Linked DNA regions of Homo sapiens: region 1 is linked to region 2. The links come from fine-mapping of genetic effects on gene expression. A gene starts in region 2. The other region holds a variant in brackets. All regions are shown on one strand. Distances are from middle to middle.

Region 1 (10,227 bases), 71 kb after region 2:
AGGTCTGTTGTAAGCCAGGTCCCTGTACATCTGGGCCCTGGAAGCCTAGCACATATTTCACTGATTCTAAAATGCATATTTTTTCACAGTTTAACCTTTCTATAATTAGGATACATTTTATGACTGACAGTATGTCATCAGTTAGCGTTTTTACTTGGTCAGAGATACATGAAATGTTTCCATCACGCTCTTTAGAGTTGTTGAAATACATTAAATGCATTAGCATACAGGATCCCATACCGAGAGGGAGAGCTCTGAAGAGTATATCCATAGGGTCTTTTCTTTTTCTTTCTTTTTGGAGACAGAGTCTCACTCTGTTGCTCAGGCTGCAGTGCAGCAGTGCTATCTCGGCTCACTACAACCTCTACCTCCCAGATTCAAGAGATTCTCCTGCCTCAGCCTCATGAGTAGCTGGGATTACATTTGCCCGCCACTACGCCCGGCTAATTTTTGTATTTTTAGTAGAGATGGGGTTTCACCAAGTTGGCCAGGATGGTCTTGATCTCTTGACCTCGTGATCTGCCCACCTTGGCCTGCCAAAGTGCTAGGATTACAGGCATGAGCCACCGCACCCAGCCTCTGTGCATCAATTTTTAAAGAAAGCAGTTCGGCTGGGCATGACGGCTCAAATCTGTAACTCCAGCACTTTGGGAGGCCAAGAGGGGAGGATCATTTGAGGTCAGGAGTTCGAGACCAGCCTGGGCAACATAGTGAGACCCCCCCCATCTCTAAAAAAATTTTAAAAATTAGCCTGGGTCAGGTGCAGTGACTCACACCTGTAATCCTACCACTTTGGGAAACTGAGGCAGGAGGATCACCTGAACCCAGGAGTTTGAGACCAGCCAGGGCAACATGGCAAAACCTTCTCTCTGCTAAAAAGTAAACAAAATTAGCCAAGTATAGTGGTGCGTGCCTGCAATCCCAGCTACTTGGGAGGCTGAGGCGGGAGGATCACTTGAACCTGGAAGGCAGAGGTTGCAGTGAGCCGAGATAGCACCACTGCACTCCAGCCTGGGTGAAAGAGTGAGACTTGGCCGGGCGCGGAGGCTCACGCCTGTAATCCCAGCACTTTGGGAGGCCGAGGCGGGTGGATCATGAGGTCAGGAGATCGAGACCATCCTGGCTAACAAGGTGAAACCCCGTCTCTACTAAAAATACAAAAAATTAGCCAGGCGCGGTGGCGGGTGCCTGTAGTCCCAGCTACTAGGGAGGCTGAGGCAGGAGAATGGCGTGAACCCGGGAAGCGGAGCTTGCAGTGAGCCAAGATTGCGCCACTGCAGTCCGCAGTCCGGCCTGGGCGACAGAGCGAGACTCCGTCTCAAAAAAAAAAAAAAAAAAAAAAAAAAAGAGTGAGACTTTATCAAAAAAAAAAAAAAAAGAAAGAAAGGAAGGAAGGAAGGAAAAAAAGAGAGAAAGAGAGAAAGAGAAAGAAAGGAAAGAAGAGGAAGGGAGGGAGGGAGGGAGCAAGGAAGGAAGGAAGGAAGGAAGGAAGGAAGGAAGGAAGGAAGGAAGGAAGGAAAGATAGCAGTTATACGATGAGATCTGCTTTTCAGAAAGACAATTTCATGGGGTGAAAAATGACCTGCAGCAGGGCAAGACCATTAATAGGAAACTCTTAACACAATGCACCTGAGCAGTGATGCAGCCACGAGCTATGCAGTGGGGCAGCATGGAGATAAAAGCTCTCAACCAGCATCTACCCAAGAGAGGAGGATGGTGGGAGCATGCAACTGTCACCCTCCAGGCTCACTCCCACACCATTCTGGTTGCCCTTACGTGGAGTCCAGCAGGGTCCCATCCAGAAGTGAGGCATTGTAGTGATATTTGAGGTAATCTCCCTTCTTACTCAGCACTGAGCAGTCAGGGGGTTTGTAGTGGGAGGTGATGCTGATGGAGTCCGAAGGGTTGTGGAAGTCGATCACATGGATGTCAAACACCAGCACAGCCGAGCCGGGGATATTCCCTAAAGGACAGACACGGGGAATTAATGAATGACCCCTGCAGGCTGCAGCACATGGGCCTCCCCAGTGTCACCAGGTATGTCCTCAAGGCCCTCCAAGTGAGGAAAACGGGCACCCAGATACAGAACCCTAGGAGGACTCCAAGACTGACGCTGAAAGGGCTGTTAGATGTAACCTCATCCTCATTTTACAGGTGGATAAACGGAGGCACAGATTTGCCGTGGGTCTCACAGCCTGTAATGAGCACAGTTTGGACTAAAATTCAAGACTATGGACTATTGCCCCATGGAATCGTTGAGCCTGAAAGATGAGTGGCTAAGTTGATCACAGATGAGGAAACTCAAACCCAGCCAAATTAATACTTGCCCCTTGCCCACTGGAAGTAAGAGGTGGGGTGAGAAAATCAGCCGTAGAGTGAAATCACTCCAATGTCCTACCACTGCTCAAGAAAAACATAACATAAACTTCATAAAGAAAAAAACACCTCTCCCCCAAAATTGGCCCCTTATGATCATACACCTAACAGTCACAAGGTGCTTTTAGAATACATCCTATTTGTTCTATACTAAATTATTTATTAACTTTTCCATAATTTCCAATTTTGAAGACAGTAGCTCACATCTGAATAATGTTTTACAGTTTGCCAAAGTATTTTTCACCTACATTTTCCCTTTAAATCCCTGCAGCAACCTTATGGGGTAGGCATGGCCATAACCCCAGGAATTTAACGACAGCTTCCCAGGGGCGTGGGGGACACTTAAACATATGCATCAGTTGTAATACATCCCCCAGCCCAAATCATTTCAGAGAAGTTTAAATGTAAAATATTTTAAAATCATGTTACCTAGAGTCAAGGACATATTTTATTATCATCAGCATTTTACATATAAAAAAACCAACTCAGGTTAGGTATGGTGGTGGCTCATGCCTATAATCTCAACTCTGGGAGGCTGAGGTGGGAGGATCACTTGAGGCCAGGGGTTTGAGACCAGCCTAGGCAACACAGCCAAATGTCTCTACAAAAAAATTAGCTGGGCGTGGTGGTGAGCACTTGTAGTCCCAGATACTCGGGAGGTTGAGGCAGGAGGATTGCTTGAGGCCAGGAGGTCAAGGCTACAGTGAGTTAGGATTGCACCACTGTACTCTAGCCTGGGCAACAGAGTGAGACTCCGTCCTCAAAAAAGAAAGAAAGAAAGAAATGAAAAATTCAGACATGATATTACTTATTCAAGAGAATAACACAGCTAATGACAAAATTCAGATAGAGATACACAAACTCCAACAGTCCCTCCTTACCTCCTGTCCCAACACGTACTTTTCTGTGTCTGCTTCTTGATTGGTCTCTCTCCTATCTCTAATAGAAACACACTCACGCTCATATTTAATAGGCGTTTATTGAGTACCAGGCATTCTTCTAAATTAAACATGTATTGTTTAATTCTCATTAAAATCCTGAGAAAATGGAGGTACAAATTTTGGGGCTGGCCAAAGTTAAAGGTAATAATTTGAGAAGCGTGTGCTTTAATAGCAGAACACAGGTGCCTGCTACTCACTCAAAACAGGGGCTGCTGGTGTGGGTGGAGTGGGGTGCAGGCTCCTTCCCACAGGAACCAGGAAGTACAGCCTGCCATTGGCCAGAAGGCTGCTCAAAGCCAGGCCACGGATGGCTCTGTGTGGGAAGCTAACACACATGGACAGGGTGGGTGTCTGCAGAGGCAGATCTATGGTTCCTCAACCTTGGTAACCTGTTAAAAATCACCTGGGAATGAACCCGAAAACATTATGCTAAGTGAAAGAAGCCAGACACAAAAGGCCACATACTGTAGGATTCCAGGGATATGGAAACATCCAGCATAAGCAAATCCATACAGACAAGAAATAGACTACCTGTTGCCAGCGTGGGGGAAGTGGATGGATGAGGACAGGGTACGGAGAGTGACCGCTAATGGTTATGGGTTACTTTTTGGAGTGATGAAACTGTGCTGGAATTAGGTAGAGGTAATGGTTATGTTACCTGGTTAATATACTAAAAACAACTAAATTGTAAACTTTAACATGATTATTTTTATAGTATGTGAATTATATTTCAAGAAAACATTAAATAAAAATATCTTTCTTGGGTATATATACAAAAGAATTGAAGCTGGAGATGCGAACAGATATTTGTACACTCATATTCACAGAAGCATTAAGCATTATTCACAACAGACAAAAAGTAGAAACAGCCTAAGTGTTCATCACCAGACGAACTGATCAACAAAATGTAGTATATACATCCAATGGAATATTCATTCAGCAATAAAAAGGAATGAAATTTATTAGCCAGAAATGAGGAATTAATTTTTTTTTTTTGAGATGGAGTCTTGCTCTGTCATCCAGGCTGGAGTGCATTGGCATGTTCTCAGCTCACCGCAACCTCCGTCCCCCGGGTTCAAG[C/T]GATTTCCCTGCCTCAGCTGAGATTACAGACGCGTACCACCACACCTGGCTAATTTTTGTGTTTTTAGTAGAGACAGGGTTTCACCATGTTGGCCAGGCTGATCTTGAACTCCTGACCTCAGGTTATCCGCCTGCTTCAGCCTCCCAAAGTGCTGGGATTACAGGCGTGAGCCACCGCGCCCAGCTTGAAATTTTGATAAATGCTAAAATACAAATAGACCTTGAAAACATTATGCTAAGTAAAATAAGACAGACACAGAAAGAGAAATATTGTATGATTCCACTCAAGTGAGGCACTTAGAATAGGCAAATTGGTAGAGACAGAAAGAAAGGTGGTTGTCAGAGGTTGATAGGAGGGAGGAATCGGGAGTTATTGTGTAATGGGTTTATGTTGGGGATGATGAAAGAGTTCTGAGTGTAGATGATAGTAATGGTTATACAACATTGTGAATATATTTGATGCCACTAAACTGTACACTTAAAATGGTTAACAAGGTAAAGATGTTAAGTATATTTTACCACAAATTTTAAAAACTTCTAACACTGAGCTAAGCAGTCACCAAATTTTATCAATTCAAATATAATCTCCCCTCCAAGATGCATTCAGGTGCAGGGCCTTCTCCAGGGCAAAAGGGAATGCATCTGGAACCACCCACATCCCTGGGATCTGATGTCAGCAGTCAAATGAACTCAGCCTCTCAGGCCCCGAGGATTCCAGGCACAAGAATTCCAACCAGTGTAGAGGTCGATTCACACCCAGTCAAGGAACCATGTAGCATCAGGTGAGTATGTCAGCTTCTAGGAAGTTAACGTGAGTCAGTCTCCCAGGTGCCTGATAACCTCTGAGGCACACACATTATTGAGGGCGTCAACAAGGAAACACTCTCTGTGTGCGTAGGAAGTTTTGTTTGTGTTTCTTTCTGCTGAATCCCTAACACCGTGAGCAGGGCCTGGTCATGAAGAAACTCAATAAATCTTTGATGGATGGATAGATGGAGTTTCTCCGCCTGCAAAAATGAAGATCAGAGCCTTGAACCATAGACCCCACCTACCCCAGGCAGCACCAAGGCTTCGAACCTCTATCCCTCTATCTTGCTCTGACTTCCACAAAGCTATTTGTAGATTAAGTATAGAAATGAGTGCTGACCAGCAAACGGGCAGAAATAGTCCAACGTGGCTCCAACACCAACCTCCTCTCTGTATAAACCCTTAACCAATGCAGAAGTCATCATTCTGTTCTCACCATGAGGATGCCTCCCTCAGAAGAGATACAGATGAGAAAAACTTAAAAGCGGCCAATAGCCCACCCAAGAAACTCTGCAGCTCCTGCTGGGGGTGGATTTCCTCTGCTGGTGGTGGGTTTCCTCTGCGGTGGGTGGGTTTCCTCTGCGGGGGGTGGGTTTCCTCTGCAGAGAGTCAGTTTCCTCTGAGGGGGGTGGGTTTCCTCTGAGGGGGTGGGTTTCCTCTGCGGGGGTGGGTTTCTTCTGAGGGGAGTGGGTTTCCTCTGAGGAAGGTGGGTTTCCTCTGAGCGGGTGTGTTTCCTCTGAGAGCTCTAGGACTTCTGGTTTGAGGTCTCGGTTCTCCACATATGGGTATCAACAAGTCACTACCTAATGGGGACTCATTCTTTCTGTCTGTCTAGGACACATATGGGTCAGAGAGCCCTGGGTCCAATTCCAGCTCCATCATGGATTAGCTATTGTGGCCTTGGACACATGGGTGGAACTCTCTGGGCCTCATTATATTTCTAAACAATGAGGGTAATGATGCCTCAGAAGACTGTTTCCAGGTTTGAATGAGTTCATGTGCAAGAAGTCCCAGACACACAGTGGGTAAAATGTAATTTATTAACTTTCCTCTCTTTCCTAAAAGGGTGCTCAAAAGGTAATCTGGAAGTTGAGTAACAGCAAACCATCGATGAAGTGATGCTTACACATCCTCGCAGGCAGAATCCATTCTCCACTTTGAGGCTGCAAACCCATCCAAATGCCCTAATTTCAGGGCTGACCCATGGAACAAAGCAGATGGCAGAAAGATCCAGAACCTCTCCCAGGAGGCCTACCCTTTCCCCTCCACCAATCTTGCAGGGGAAAATGGCTGTGACAGAATGAAATGCTGATAGAGGCTGAGAGCACACGGTCAGCCCACAATTCATTCCTTCCACAAATATTTGCCAAACATTCACAATGTGCCTGGCCCTGTGGTATGCAGTGAAGAAGCCACTAAGAAGACAGTTTCAGCATCCTGACCCCTCTCGGGTCAGCCCCTCAGGGATCAGCACGAGCTCCTATGTAACCCCCACAAAGAGGCCAAGGGTGCTGATCAGGAGAGGACAGAGGCAGACTCCACTCAAGAGCACTTGGGGTTTATACCTCAGGGTCACTCAGGGTGCCCTCCTCCCACAGCAACGTGATTCAGGATGAAGGAGTCTCATTGCCCAGAAAATTTACGAGCCTTCGGCTGCTTCCCAGAGGCTTATATAATTCTTTGCAGAGCTCTGTCTCATACTTGATAGAAAGCCAAGAGGAAAAAAAGTAATTTAAGCAAATGTTTTCCATCAATGCATTCTTTTCAAAGAAAGGAAAGATTAGTCCTCAGGCCATAAAGAAACAAGAACATTCAGAAAGTATTTATCTGTTTCTGTTTATATTTGACTAGAAGTAGAAATCCACACGATAAAAAGCAATAGAGAATCAAGACACTAGACAAGCAGGATGTGTGAAGAAAGCCCTGTCGAATGGATCTTAAGCTGTGATCTGTTGTGGTTTAATCAATCAGAAATTTAAGTCAGGGAGAAAAAAATATTTCTCCATTGTACAACCTACCTTCCAACCAACTTGACGTTTCTTGGATCCTCTGGGATGAACACTACTGGGAAAACTCTCAAGATACATATGATGTATCAACAAAAAAACAGAACAGAACTAACAAAATAAATGTACAGCCAGCAAGGCCAGCCTCCATCAGCAAAAGAATACAAAAACAAAATAAATACTGCATCAACTATTGCTAAGCGAGGGAGCAGCCATTAAAATACATAGCATAGAAAGTTGTTCACAACATATCTGTTGTTCACCACAAATTAGGTGAAGAGAGAAATCACAAAGTAATACGCATAGACAATCCCATGTTTGTCCGTATTGATTAGTGTAGGTGGGCATTTTTTTTTAAACCTATACATAAACTCAAAGGTACAGAAGGACATTCACTTCATGGCTGCATTTGTTTCCTACTGTTGCTGCAGCAAAATACCACAAACTTGTTGGCTTAAAACAACGCAAACGGATTCCCCTAATTCTGGAAGGCAGAAGCATAAATTCAAGGTATTGTTAGGGATATGTTCCTTTTGGAGGCTGCCGGGGAGAATGTGTTTCCATCTTTTCCAGCCTCTCGGGGCCACCTTCATTCCCTGACAGGGTCCTCCTTCTGTATCTTCTAAGTCAGCAGTTTAGCACTTTTTCCCCGGTCTGACCCCCTGCCTCCCTTTTACAAAGACTGTTGCAAGTATTTTGAGGCCACCTGGATAATCTAGAATACTATTCCTATCTCAAGATCCTTAATCAAATCTGTAAAGTCCCTTTTAATAAGGTAACAGGAGGCTAGGCATGGTGGCTCACACCTGTCATCCCAGCACTTCAGAAGGCCAAGGTGGGAGGATTGCTTGAGCTCAGGAGTTCCAGACAAGCCTGGGAAACATAGCAAGACCATGTCTGTCTTTACAAAAAAAAAAAAATTGCTTTTGAATTAGCCGTGCATGGTAGCACACACATGTAGTCCTAGCTACTCAGGAGGCTGATGCAGGAGGATCACTTTAACACAGAAGCTGGAGGCTGCAGTGAGTTAGGAGCTTATCTTACCACTGCACTCCAGCCTGGGCAACAGAACAAGACTTTGTCTCAAAACAAAATAAAGTAAGGTAACATACTCACAGGTTCTGGGGATTAGAACATAGATACTTGGAGGGGCTGAATATTCTGCCTACCAGATTAAGATTAACAATATTTGTTTCTGGCATGGCATGGCGCTCACATCTATAATCCCAGCACTTTGGGAAGCCAAGGTGGGCAGATCACTTGGGCCAGGAGTTTGAGACTAGCCTGGCCAACATAGTGAAACTCCATCTCTACTGAAAATTAAAAAAAAAAATTAGCCAGGCGTGGTGGCACATGCCTGTAGTCCCAGCTACTTGGGAGGCTAAGGCACGAGACTCACCTGAACCCAGGAGGCAGAGGTTGCAGTGAGCCAAGATCGTGCCACTGTACTCCAGCCTGGGTGACAGAATGAGACTCTATCTCAAAAAAAGAAAAAAGAAAAAAAGGAAAAAAAATCTTTATTTCTGGGTGGCAGGATTTCTTTGCTTAACTGTATTTTCTTTTTCTAAAGTCAACATGTATGATTTGTGTAACTTTTAAAAGGAAGTGTGGTATGAGGGTGACAAAAATGTTCTAAAACAGGATTATAGTGATGGTGACATAACCCACTAAATGTTCTAAAAGTCACTAAATTGTATACTTAAATGGGTGAATTTTATAATATATAAAACAAAAACCAAAGAGGGGCTTTTGCACTTACTTTCAATGGTTCAGCCCAAAATAAATAAATAAATATAAAAAGAGATCAAATATAGCAAAATGTTAACAACTGGCAAAACAAAGTGGAATTCACCATAACGTGCTTTTGACTTTGGTGTAGGATTTAACATTTTCAAAAGGTAAAGGAAAATGGGCAGAGAAACAAGGAGAAATAACAGGACAACTCTAGAAACTAAATCTATTTGGGAATTCCAGTCTTAAGCTGGACTTTAGCTTCAATATTTTGGCTCTCAAGAAGTTCTGTGCAGGGTGTGGTGGTGCGTGCCTGTAGTGCCAGCTACTCTGAAGGCTGAGGCAAGAGGATCACTTGAGGCCAAGAGTTCCAGGCCATAGTACACGATGATCACACACTACACTTTCCAGCCTGTTCAACAGAGGGAGACCCTATCTCAAAAAGAAAGAAGAAAAAGAAAAAGAAGCCCTGTTTCAAGCAATGTGGAAGCAGCCACAGCTAGTGAGGAAGGCAGGTGATGCTGATGCTCACCTCTTCCTTCCTCTCCATACCCCAGGTGAGGCGGGACCACAATCCTTCGCTTTTCTCCAATGCAAACACCAAGTAGACCTTCATCCATCCCAGGAATCACGTAGCCCTGCCCAATGTACGTGTCAAACGTGCGGTTCCGAGAGTAGCTAGAAAAGAAGAAAGGAAAGAAAGAGGTCATTCATGAGGGCCTCCACAGCAGCTGTGCAAATTAGTTGGGAAAGAGATGCAAAGGCACACAGAGGCCTCCAGACTCCGGAACAGCGTAAACCACAGTATCTGACGACACAGCCAGGAAACATGCTCCCCTGGAAGGGTAAATAAGAACCCCCACACAGCATGTGAACAGCCACCTGTAGGGACACGCCATGTGGCCCTCCAGTTTCATCAGGTTATGAATGCAGTGTGGGTTATGAGAAGCACCACACAGAAATGGAGCTAATGTAAATTGAACACTATACTTTCTTTTTCTGAGGCAAGGTCTCACTCTGTCACCCAGGCTGGTGTGCAGTGGCACCATCATAGACAGCTCACTGCAGCCTCAACCTCCCAGGCTCAAGCAATCCTCCCACCTCAGCCTCCCAAGTAGCTGAGACTACAAGCACATGCTACCACACCTAGCTAATACTTTTTTTTTTTTGTAGAGATGGGGTCCCACTATGTTGCTCAGCCTGGTCTTGAGCTCCTGGATCAAGTGATCCTCCTGACTTGGCCTCCCAAAGTGCTGGGTTGACAGGTATGAGCCACCGTGCCCAGC
Region 2 (10,196 bases):
CCTACAGCTTATGGTACTTTCTTTTCAGATATAATATACTATCTGAAATAGTATAATGTACTATCTAGGTTCCCATGTAGAAAGGAACATCCAGAAAGTCCTTCCCAATTCTAGATCTCGTTGGTCTATTTTTAATACTTGACAAATGGATCATTGTGTTTCTATAAATATAGGTATCAGTTACTGTGCAAGGTCCCCAGGTATAAGAAAAGACAGCAGCAACCTGTGTGCCCTGTCACAGTATCTCTTGACTGAGGGGACAGAAACCTTGCTTTTGTGGTTGGAAAAAAAACAGTATAATGTAACCTAAAATCACACAGTAGGAATCACTTAATGGACTAGGATCCCACTAGATGGTAATTTAGGACTCACTCAGAAAAAATATGGGAAGTCTTATGACACACTCAGACTAAGCTCTATTTAGGAGTAGCTACCATTCACCTCATGTTGATTTGGAACACTCAACATTTTTGGGTCCATAACTTATACTCAAACTGCACCTCTGCCATAAATGCCCAGTGGCAACAACATGTTTGGTGGATATGGCAACACTGGCCAAGTAAGGTAGAGATCCTTAGGGGCAACAGGTGCAGGATTGGGGGTGTTAGGGCAAGTCAAGAGTGCATATAATGAAAAAAGGCATTTTCAAAAAAAATCAATACTTACTGACCTAAATTTAAGCTAAAGGAAGTACTCTTCCAGGAAAAAAATAAAGGCTAGGCAGCTGCCTGAAAAGATAATGATGCTATTTTTAAAGCGGGTAAATCAAACTGCTCAATTTATGGGGAAAATGCTAAGGTCCAATAGTGAAAAAGAGCATGTGTCCAAACTCACTTTTTTAGTTCTTTTTTTTTTTTATGGATTTAGGGGTACAAGTGCAGTTGTGTTACATGGATATATTGAGTAGTGGTAAAATGTGGGCATTTAGTGCACCCATCACCAGAATAATATACATTGTATCTAATAGGTGGTATTTTATCCTGCCCCCCTACCCTTGCACCACTTGGAGTCTCCAATGTCTATTATTCCACTCTGTATGTTTATGTGCACCCATTGTTTGACTCCCACTTGTCAGTGAGAAAAAAAATTAATTTTGTTTCTGAGTTATTTCACTAAAGAAAATGGTCTGCAGTTCCATCTATATATATAAATATATATATTTATATATAAGTGTTTTATATACTTATAAATTATATATATAAATATATTACATATTACATATTATAAATATATAAAACACATATTTATATATTATATATAATATATACTATATAACATATAAAATATATAAAATAAAGGCTAGGCAGCTGCCTGAAAAGATATTGTATATTATATATACAAATATAATGTTATATATAAAATATATATTTTATATATACTTATATAATATATAAATTATATATTTTATATAATTTATATTATATAAAATATATATAATATATATATCTTTATGTCCATGAGTACTCAATGTTTAGCTCCCATTTATAAGTGAGAACATGCAGCACTTGGTTTCCTGTTCCTGCATTAATTTGCTTAGGATAATGGCCTCCAGCTGCATTAATGTTGCTGCATATGACATGATTTTGTTCTTTTTATGGCTGTGTAGTATTGACTCATGTCCATGTACCACATTTTCCTTATCCAATCCATTGTTGATGGACACGTAGGTTGATTCGATGTCTTTGCTCTTGTGAATAGTGCTGTGATGCATGTGTCTTTTTGGCAGAATAATTTCTTTTCTTTTGAATATATACCCAGTAATTAGATTGCTGGGTTGACTTGTAGTTCTGTTTTATGTTATTTGAGACATGTCCAAACTGCTTTCCACAGTGGCTGAATTAATTTACATTCCCACCAATAGTGTTTAAGCATTCTCCTTTCCCCATGGCCTCACCAGCATCTGTTGTGTTTTGACTTTAAAAGCCATTCTGACTGGTGTGAAACGATATCATATTGTGGTTTTGATTTGCATTTCTCTGATGACCAGTGTTGTAGAGCATTTTTTCATATGCTTGTGGGCCATTTGTATGTCTTCTTTTGAAAAATGTTGTCCTTCATGTCAAGGGCAGTATGGTCACTTTTTAATGGTTTTTCTTGTTGAGTAGTTTGAGTTTCTTATAGATTTTGAATAGTCACCCTTTGTCACATGCATTCTTTGCAAATATTTTCTCCCATTCTATAGGCTGTATGTTTAGTCTGTTGATTATTTGTTTTGCATTGCAGAAGCTTTTTAGCTTAATGAAGTCCCATTTGTCAACTTTTGTTTTTCATTTTTGTTGTTTCCTTTTGAGGACTTAGTCATAAGTTCTTCGCCTAGGCCAATGTCCGGAAGAGTTTTTCCCAGGGTTTCTTCTAGGATTTTTATAGTTTCAGGTCTTACATTTAAGTCTTAAATCCATCTTGGTTAATTTTTGTATACGGTGAGAGACGGGGGTCCAGGTTCATTCTTCTGCATATGGCTCTAAAATTATCCCGGCACAATTTATTGAATAGGGTGTCCTTTTGCCAGTGTATATTTTGTCAAATATCAGTTTGCTGCAAATATGGGGCATTTATTTCTAGTTTCTCTATTTTGTTCCATTGATCTATGTGTCATGTCTATTTTTATACCAGTACCATGCTGTTTTGTTTACTATGGCTTTGTAGTATAATTTTAAGTCAAAATGTGATACCTCCAGCTTTACTCCTTTTGTTTAGGATTGCTTTGTCTATTTGGGCCCTTTTATGGTTCCACATGAATTTTAGGATTGTTTTTTCTAATTCCATGAAGAATGACATTGGTAGTTTGCCAGGTATTGTGTTGAATCTGTATTTGCTGAATATGTATTCCTGAATCTGTATTTGCTGAATCTGTATTGTTGAATTTGAATTGCTTTGGGCAGTATGGTCATTTTGATGACATTAATTCTTCTAATCCTGGAGCATGAGGCGTTTTTTCCATTTGTTTGTGTCATCTATTCTTTCTTTCTTTTTTTCTTTCCTTCTTTCCTTCCCTTTCTTCCATTCTTTTCCTTTTTCTTGAGACAGGGTCTCACTTTTTTTTTTTTTTTTTTTTTTTTTTTGAGACACAGTCTTGCTCTGTTGCCCAGGCTGGAGTGCAGTGGCATGATCTCGGCTCACTGAAAGCTCCACCTCCTGGGTTCATGCCATTCTCCTGCCTCAGCCTCCCGAGTAACTGGGACTACAGGCGCCCGCCACCACGCCCAGCTAATTTTTTGTATTTTTAGTAGTGACGGGGTTTCATCGTGTTAGCCAGGATGTTCTCGATCTCCTGACCTTTTCACCAAGGCTGGAGTCCATAATCATAGCTCACTGCAGCCTCCAACTGCTAGGCTCCAGCAATCCTCCCACCTCAGCCTCCTGAGTAGTTGGGACTACAGGCATGCAGTGTCAGGCCTCTGAGCCCAAGCTAAGCCATCATATACCCTGTGACCTGCAAGTTATATGCCCAGATGGCCTGAAACAAGTGAAGAATCACAAAAGAAGTGAAAATGGCCTGTTCCTGCCTTAACTGATGACATTCCACCACAAAAGAAGTGAAAAATGGTGGGTCCCTGCCTTAACTGATGACATTACCTTGTGAAATTCCTTCTCCTGGCTCATCCTGGCTCAAAAGCTCCCCCAGTGAGCACCTTGCGACCCCCACCCCTGCCTGCCAGAGAACAACCCCCCTTTGACTGTTAACACATTTTCCTTTACCTACCCAAATATTACAAAACGGCCCCACCCCTATCTCCCTTCACTGACTCTCTTTTGGACTCATCCCGCCTGCACCCAGGTGAAATAAACAGCCTTGTTGCTCACACAAAGCCTGTTTGGTGGTCTCTTCACACGGACGAGAGTGAAACGCAGCACCATGCCCAGCTAATTTCTTTGGTTTTTCAGGGATTGTAGAGACAGGGTCTCGCTATGTTGCCGAGACTGGTCTCAAACTTGTGGCCTCAAGCAATCCCCCAACCTTGGGCTTCCAAAGTGCTGAGATTACAGGCACCAGCCACCTCACCTGGCCTGATTTCTTTCATCAGTATTTTGTAGTTCTCCGTGTAGAGATCTGTACTAGTCTGTTTTCAGGCTGCTGATAAAGACATACCCCAGACTGCGCAATTTACAAAAGAAAGAGGTTTAATTGGACTTCCAGTTCCACGTGGCTGGGGAAGCCTCACAATCATAGTGGAAGGCAGGGAGCAAGTCCCATCTTACATGGATGGGAGCAGACAAAGAGAGAATGAGGAAGACGCAAAAGCGAAAACCCTGATAAAACCATCAGATCTCCTGATACTTAAGTCACTACCACGAAAACAGTATGGAAGAAAACACCCCAATGATTCAATTATCTCCCACCAGGTCCCTCCCACAACACATGGGAATTATGGGAGTATAATTCAAAATAAGATGTGGGTGAGGATACAGGGTCAAACCATATCAAGATCTTCCATGTCTTTCAACAAGAATAATTAATATGTTAATTCACATAGAAGCTGAAATAGTCTCCAAACATGGCCAACCCTCTTAGATTCAGAAACACAAGGTTTACACTTATAAAAAACATATGGACCCCTTTCCTCCTGGAAATTTACTACCAGGGTTTGTAGTCTAATTGACTATACTCCTACAGCTTTAACATCTCATATAGATGATAATCAGACCTATGATATAGTATAACTAGTTAAAATAGAAATCATATTTCAGAGTACCCACATTCTTCCCATGTGCAGTTGACGGGCCATATTACAAAAACAAAATTTGGAACTCCATTTCTGTTTTAGATTGTCCACAGCTTCAAGACGAATGTTATCGTCTACAAAATGTTTAAAATCCTGAAATTATAGAAACGTGGCTTTAGTCTCTACCCATTCAAAATAATATGTAATATATGGAAAATGTTTTTGTTGAGGAAGAAAGATAAATGAGACTGTGACCATCTTAGGCCTCACAATCAGACAACATTTAAGTCATATTGGTATTTGGTGCAAAACTGGATTCATAAAAAATTACTTTGGCGACAAAATGACACAGTAGTCTAGATATTGATACTCAAATATTCTGGGTATTAAAACTCAGTCTTCTTCAGGTTATACTCCCAGCTAACTTACTTTGGGACACGTTCTCGGTCTATACTGAGTCTGTGTTCCCAGGCTTAAGTCCTCAAACTTGGCCGAGTAATAAAACTAACCATGATTTCTTTAAGTTTTAGTACCTGTTATTTCACCTTTCGGTCGACAAATCGTTTTTCTCATGTTCCTCTGTCTTACATCAATTTAATTTGTAGACCAGCCAAATGACCTAAAAGGCTAGAAGGAAACAATTTTTCCTCCCCTACAACTATTTCCTCTAGTCCTCCGGCTGAAAGTTGTTCCACGTCCTGGGCAGAGAGAGCCCCACCAGGCAGCACCACCAGCTCCACAGAGTTGGAGCGATTCCCCCAAGAAGCTCCCCTGCGCCCCTCCTCACCCCCAGAGACCAGCAGAAGAAATGGCATCTATCCCTTGGAAGACACTAGGCAGGAGAGAACAACTGCAAGCCCTTCTGCTCACACAGAAAAAAGGATGGCGGAGGTGGCGAATGGGATGTAGCAGAAACCCCGCGGCTGCGGCGGAAGGGACACCGCCCCTCTCCAGCCTAACTCTGAGCCATCTTCCCCCTGTTGTTATAGCACTTAGAACGGACGCCACTGCGCAGGTCACACCGTGCCGCGCAGCCTTCTGGGGGTCGGAGTCCAGAGGGGCTGAGGCGCGAAGGCGGAGACCGACTTCTTAGCGGGCCGCAGTTGGAATTAGATTTCTACTGGGGCGGGGCTCGAGCGAACCACGGCCTAATCCTCATTAGCAGAGAAGGATAATTACCGCAATACTCTGCCCTGCCCTGACAGCAGCTCGTGAGACCCTGAGTCTGCTGAAGGCCGCCTCCAGCCTGGGCTCCGGGCACAGGCCACACCCCTCCCGCCGCGTCCTGGCCTCTCCCATCGATGGCGTGTGGGTGGGGCTTCGTGGGGGCGGAGCTGCGCGGGGCGGGGCGTCGCTGCGCGGGGCGGGGCGTCGCGGGCTCGTCCGTGATGCTCTGGGATCCCGCGCTTCCGAGACTCGCAGTCTACGCGAGCTGCCTGTTTTTTTCCTGCTTGGACGCGCATGAGGGCCCCGTCCATGGACCGCGCGGCCGTGGCGAGGGTGGGCGCGGTAGCGAGCGCCAGCGTGTGCGCCCTGGTGGCGGGGGTGGTGCTGGCTCAGTACATATTCACCTTGAAGAGGAAGACGGGGCGGAAGACCAAGATCATCGAGATGGTGAGTGTGGAGGCTCGGCGCGCCCAGAGCACGCGAGGGGCCGGCTGGGCCGTCCGCTGGCCTCGGCAGCCTGTGCTGGGCCGCTGTTCGGTCGCGACGGGGAGCTGCCGGCGTCGCCTGTCAGGCTGGGATCTCGCTAGCTCGGGACGCGCAGCTTGGGGGACCCGGCCGCCCCGCGTGCGGCCACTCCGCGGGCTTGGTGACCAGGGTTGGGTCCCCGGCTGCGGCCCTTGGCTGCCCGTGGTCTTTGTTAGGTTTCCGTTTGAAGGAACAAGGCAGAAAATAGATGAATCGGACACAGGCTACTTTGTGCTGCAAAACCCGTTTCTCTAGAGATAAGCTGCATGTCCTGGGCAGGTGGCTCCTTCTCTCCCTGCCTTGCTCCCGCCCTCCCCCCGGATCCGCGTCAAACCGTTGCCGCTAATCTAGTTGCAATTCCCGCAGAGGACTAGTTTTATGTTGGGGCTGCCGTGAGTTAGATTATGAAAATGTGCAATATCTAAAATTTTACAAGAATGGCAATCCAGGAGAAATTCAGGATAGTTTATTTTGTATTTGAATGTATTCCTTCTTGTCTCAAAACTCCCACGAAATATCTTTGTTTTCATCTTAACTCCCAAAGCTCTTGTATACATTTTCGAATTTAATTTTTTATTGAAGAGGGTGTCTCAAGAATTCCCTTTGAGATACATTATAAGTAATTGTTTCAAAAATGAGGATATTTAGTTTCGTTTTGTATTTTAATTAGAACCCACTCAGGAAGACAATTCTTGCACAAACTTGCACGCTTATGTATTTCCTGAAATGCATAATCCTGGGTATACGCCTGACCGTGTGCTATACATGTGAACATCTAGGGTCAGATGATTTATGATAGAAAAAAATTTAAAATCTACACTAAATAATATCATTTTAGGGTGTAATACTTGGAATTTCTGAGCACCTGCAATATGTTCCAACTGACGAAAGACACGATTTGTCCTATTGGTTGTACTGACCCCAGGTTGAATACAGATGTATTTGCATAATTAAAATTAGCCAGTGTCCCAGCTATTTGGGAGGCTGAGAGGAAGATCACTGGAGTCTGGGAGTTCAAGGTTATAATCACACCTGTGGATAGCTACTGCACTCCAGCCTGGGAAACATAGCGAGACCCTGTCTCTTAAAAAAAAAAGTTAATTCCCACTTGTCTCATATTCCAATAATATTCCCTAATTTTGAATTAATTTATTCTTAAAGGGTCTTAATAATTCTAAAGGCTTATTAAAATTCATTTGTCCCACATCTGTATGCCCACAGCAGCAAATGGTTTTAACTCAGAAGTTTCATTTTGCTTTTGTTGCTTTCCTGCTTAGAAAACTTGGCTTTCTTTTGCCCAAGGTTAATAATGCCTATGTAGGGGAAAAAACCGAGTTGCCATATCTCCCTGCCTGTGCTTAAACTATGGATTGGTCTGTATACCACTTATCTAAGCCAAGTAAGGTTAAAAATCAGTGTGTTCACAAAATCCTTCAATGATACCATCATAGGAACAGTTTGCTATCTTTGTGACAAATAATGAAGACCTATCTAGAATACCAACTTATTGGTACTAAAGAAATCAGTCAATATTTACATGTATGCATAGTATATTAATTCAGATTGTAATATATGTGTAGCCTGCTAGTAGCTTTTCAATGGAAAAAGTGAAAAGAGCTTCATGTTAACTTTTTTAATTTTAATAGGTTGCTTCTTCAAGTGGAAGAAGTATTTGACTGGGGGTCAGAAGACCTGGGTTGGAATCCTAGTTCCATCTTTCTGTAATAATGTAGGTCTGCTCTGCCCATCCTCTGCCCTCCTCCCTCAGAAAAATCTCTGCAAACCCATGATGTCCAACAGACATAGCTCATATTGGTCACAGCTAACGGAGTTAACTACCTAACCAAGTTGGGCCTATCTAACTGGCTAAGAAAACCAATAACTTCTGGGACTTGGTCAAAATGATGCATTGTCTTGCAAGAGTTTTTAATTGAGAGACATGAGGAAGTTGCTAGTGGGTTGTGTATGCTACAGCTGAAATATCCCATAGGGCAGCAAGATTAATGTACAGAAGAAGCCAGTCATGGCTAGGCATGGTGGCTCACACCTGTAATCCCAGCACTTTGGGAGGGTGAGGTGGGAGAACCCTGTCTCAAAAAAAAAAAAAAAAAAAAAAAAAAGAAGGAAAGCAAGATACGGAATGGGATCAAGAAACTGAATTGTAAAGGAATTTTGTAAAGCCATTATAAAGAGTTTGCTCTTTATTTTGCAACAAAGGATCATCAAAGGTTTGCTTTGGCAGGGTACAGTGGCTCACGCCTGCAATCCCAGCACTTTTGGAGGCTGAGGCGGGAGGATCCCTTGAGCCCAGGAGTTCGAGACCAGCCTGGGCGGCATAGGGAGACCCTTTCTCTACAGAAAATAAAGATTTTAGCCAGTGCAGTGGCACACACTTGTAGTGTAGTCCCACCTACTTAGGGGCCGAAGGTGAAATCTCTTCAGTCAAGGTGGTCGAGGCTGCAGTGAGTCGTGATCACACCATTGCACTCAAGCTTGGGTGACAGAGTCACCCAGAGTCTCAAAACAGAGAAACAAAAAACCCAACAGTATGTTTTATGAAGATGAGATAAGGTGGACTGGAAGGGAAGATCCTGGAAAGAAATAAATTTAGGAGGTTGGTAGTATTGCTTGCGAAAGATGATTAGAGATCTTAAACTATGGCACTAGCAACAGGTATGGAAATAAGGGATCAGGAGACAAACATTTCCGAGATAAAATCAACGGGACTTTGTGCACAGACTGTAGAGTCATACAAACCTAGTTTTGAATCTAGTTTTTCTCATTTATCAAGCCATGTGACCTTGGGCAAATTACTTAACCTCTCTGAATCTCCCATTTTTCATCTATTAATTGGGAGATAATGATAGTACCTACTTCATAGGTTGTGAAGATTAAATGAGATAACACAGTGCCTAGAACATAATTGCTTTCTTTCAGAGCTTATTATTTGTGATCATTAGATAAAGGGATTAATTGTAAGGAGAAATAACTTTAAGATTATCAGGTAACTGCTGATTCTGGTTATATTATTAGCCAAGATGAAGAGAAGGAAAAAATGGCAGGTTTGGAAAGTAGCCAGGAGGTAAGGGAAATGTGGAATCACAAGTTCACTTTAAGTCATATGAAATTTGAGATGATCAAGGAATGACCAACTAGAAATGTTCATGAAATAGTTAATATATTTAAAGTGCTTAGAAAAGTGCCTGGCCCAGAGTAACCAATATATACATTACTTATTGTTATTATTAGCAATAGCAACTGAAAATGGAAGGCTGGAGCTCTAAAGATAAATTGAGGCTAGAAATAATATTTTCCCTAATGTCTAGCCTCTCAATGGCCAGTGTGGAGCTGGATATTATTTCTCATCCATAGTTTTACAGCGAGAAGAAAACAGAAAACTTGGCAATGCCAAGTTCAGTAAAGATGCTGAAAGCTGTCAGAGGTGGAATAACAGGAAATGTTTCCAAAAGAAGGGGCAGAATTAGCTATGTCCATCTTCTCTAAGGTCAGAAGTTGATGACAAGATCAGAAGTTGGTCTGAAAGGCTATGGTAGCAGTGGGTTGAGCCGCCGTTGGTAAAACAATGATGTGAAGACAACTAAAAAATGACTTTTGGGCAGAGGAAGTAGTTGTGCTGAGGATGGGTATTTTGTTTTGTTTTTCGAATGGTTGGCACAGAAGTATGTTGGTGGGCAGAGGAGTAGTGAAAAGCAAATGGTTAAAGATAAGAGGAGGAGAAAAAATAATCAGTCTAGCAAAGTTCTAGGGGAGATGTGGACAGATGCCTTTTGAGGGGAATACGGAACATCTCTGTCTTTCTGAAAGAGTGTACTACTCTGG

Alleles and levels. Alleles are on the strand shown, and positions count from the first base shown. SD is a standard deviation of normalised expression in the study named.
For the expression in monocytes after interferon gamma of the gene that starts at base 6,070 in region 2, allele C in region 1 goes with a higher level than allele T (large effect, 1.4 SD a copy in Fairfax 2014).

The links. PIP is the estimated chance that this variant, and not a neighbour inherited with it, causes the effect. A credible set is the group of variants that fine-mapping cannot tell apart.
Region 1: its variant is the best candidate, but not a certain one, in a credible set for the expression of NT5C3A in monocytes after interferon gamma (Fairfax 2014, PIP 0.82).

What each region holds. Positions count from the first base shown.
Region 1 is chr7:32,987,899-32,998,125 of GRCh38, reverse strand. It overlaps FKBP9 (FKBP prolyl isomerase 9), which reads right to left. Exons shown (of 10, transcript NM_007270.5): 6 at 9,474-9,619; 7 at 1,777-1,963. Among named protein-coding and RNA genes, the nearest start is that of FKBP9, 36 kb to the right of the region's middle. The variant C/T (reference allele first, on the strand shown) is at 4,398.
Region 2 is chr7:33,058,650-33,068,845 of GRCh38, reverse strand. It overlaps NT5C3A (5'-nucleotidase, cytosolic IIIA), which reads left to right and starts at 6,070. Exons shown (of 9, transcript NM_001002010.5): 1 at 6,070-6,278. The coding sequence starts at 6,141. It overlaps LOC124901610 (a long non-coding RNA gene), which reads right to left and starts at 5,661. Exons shown (of 4, transcript XR_007060279.1): 1 at 5,198-5,661; 2 at 4,699-4,817. RefSeq lists an enhancer at 5,556-5,715 and silencers at 5,956-6,075, 6,376-6,435.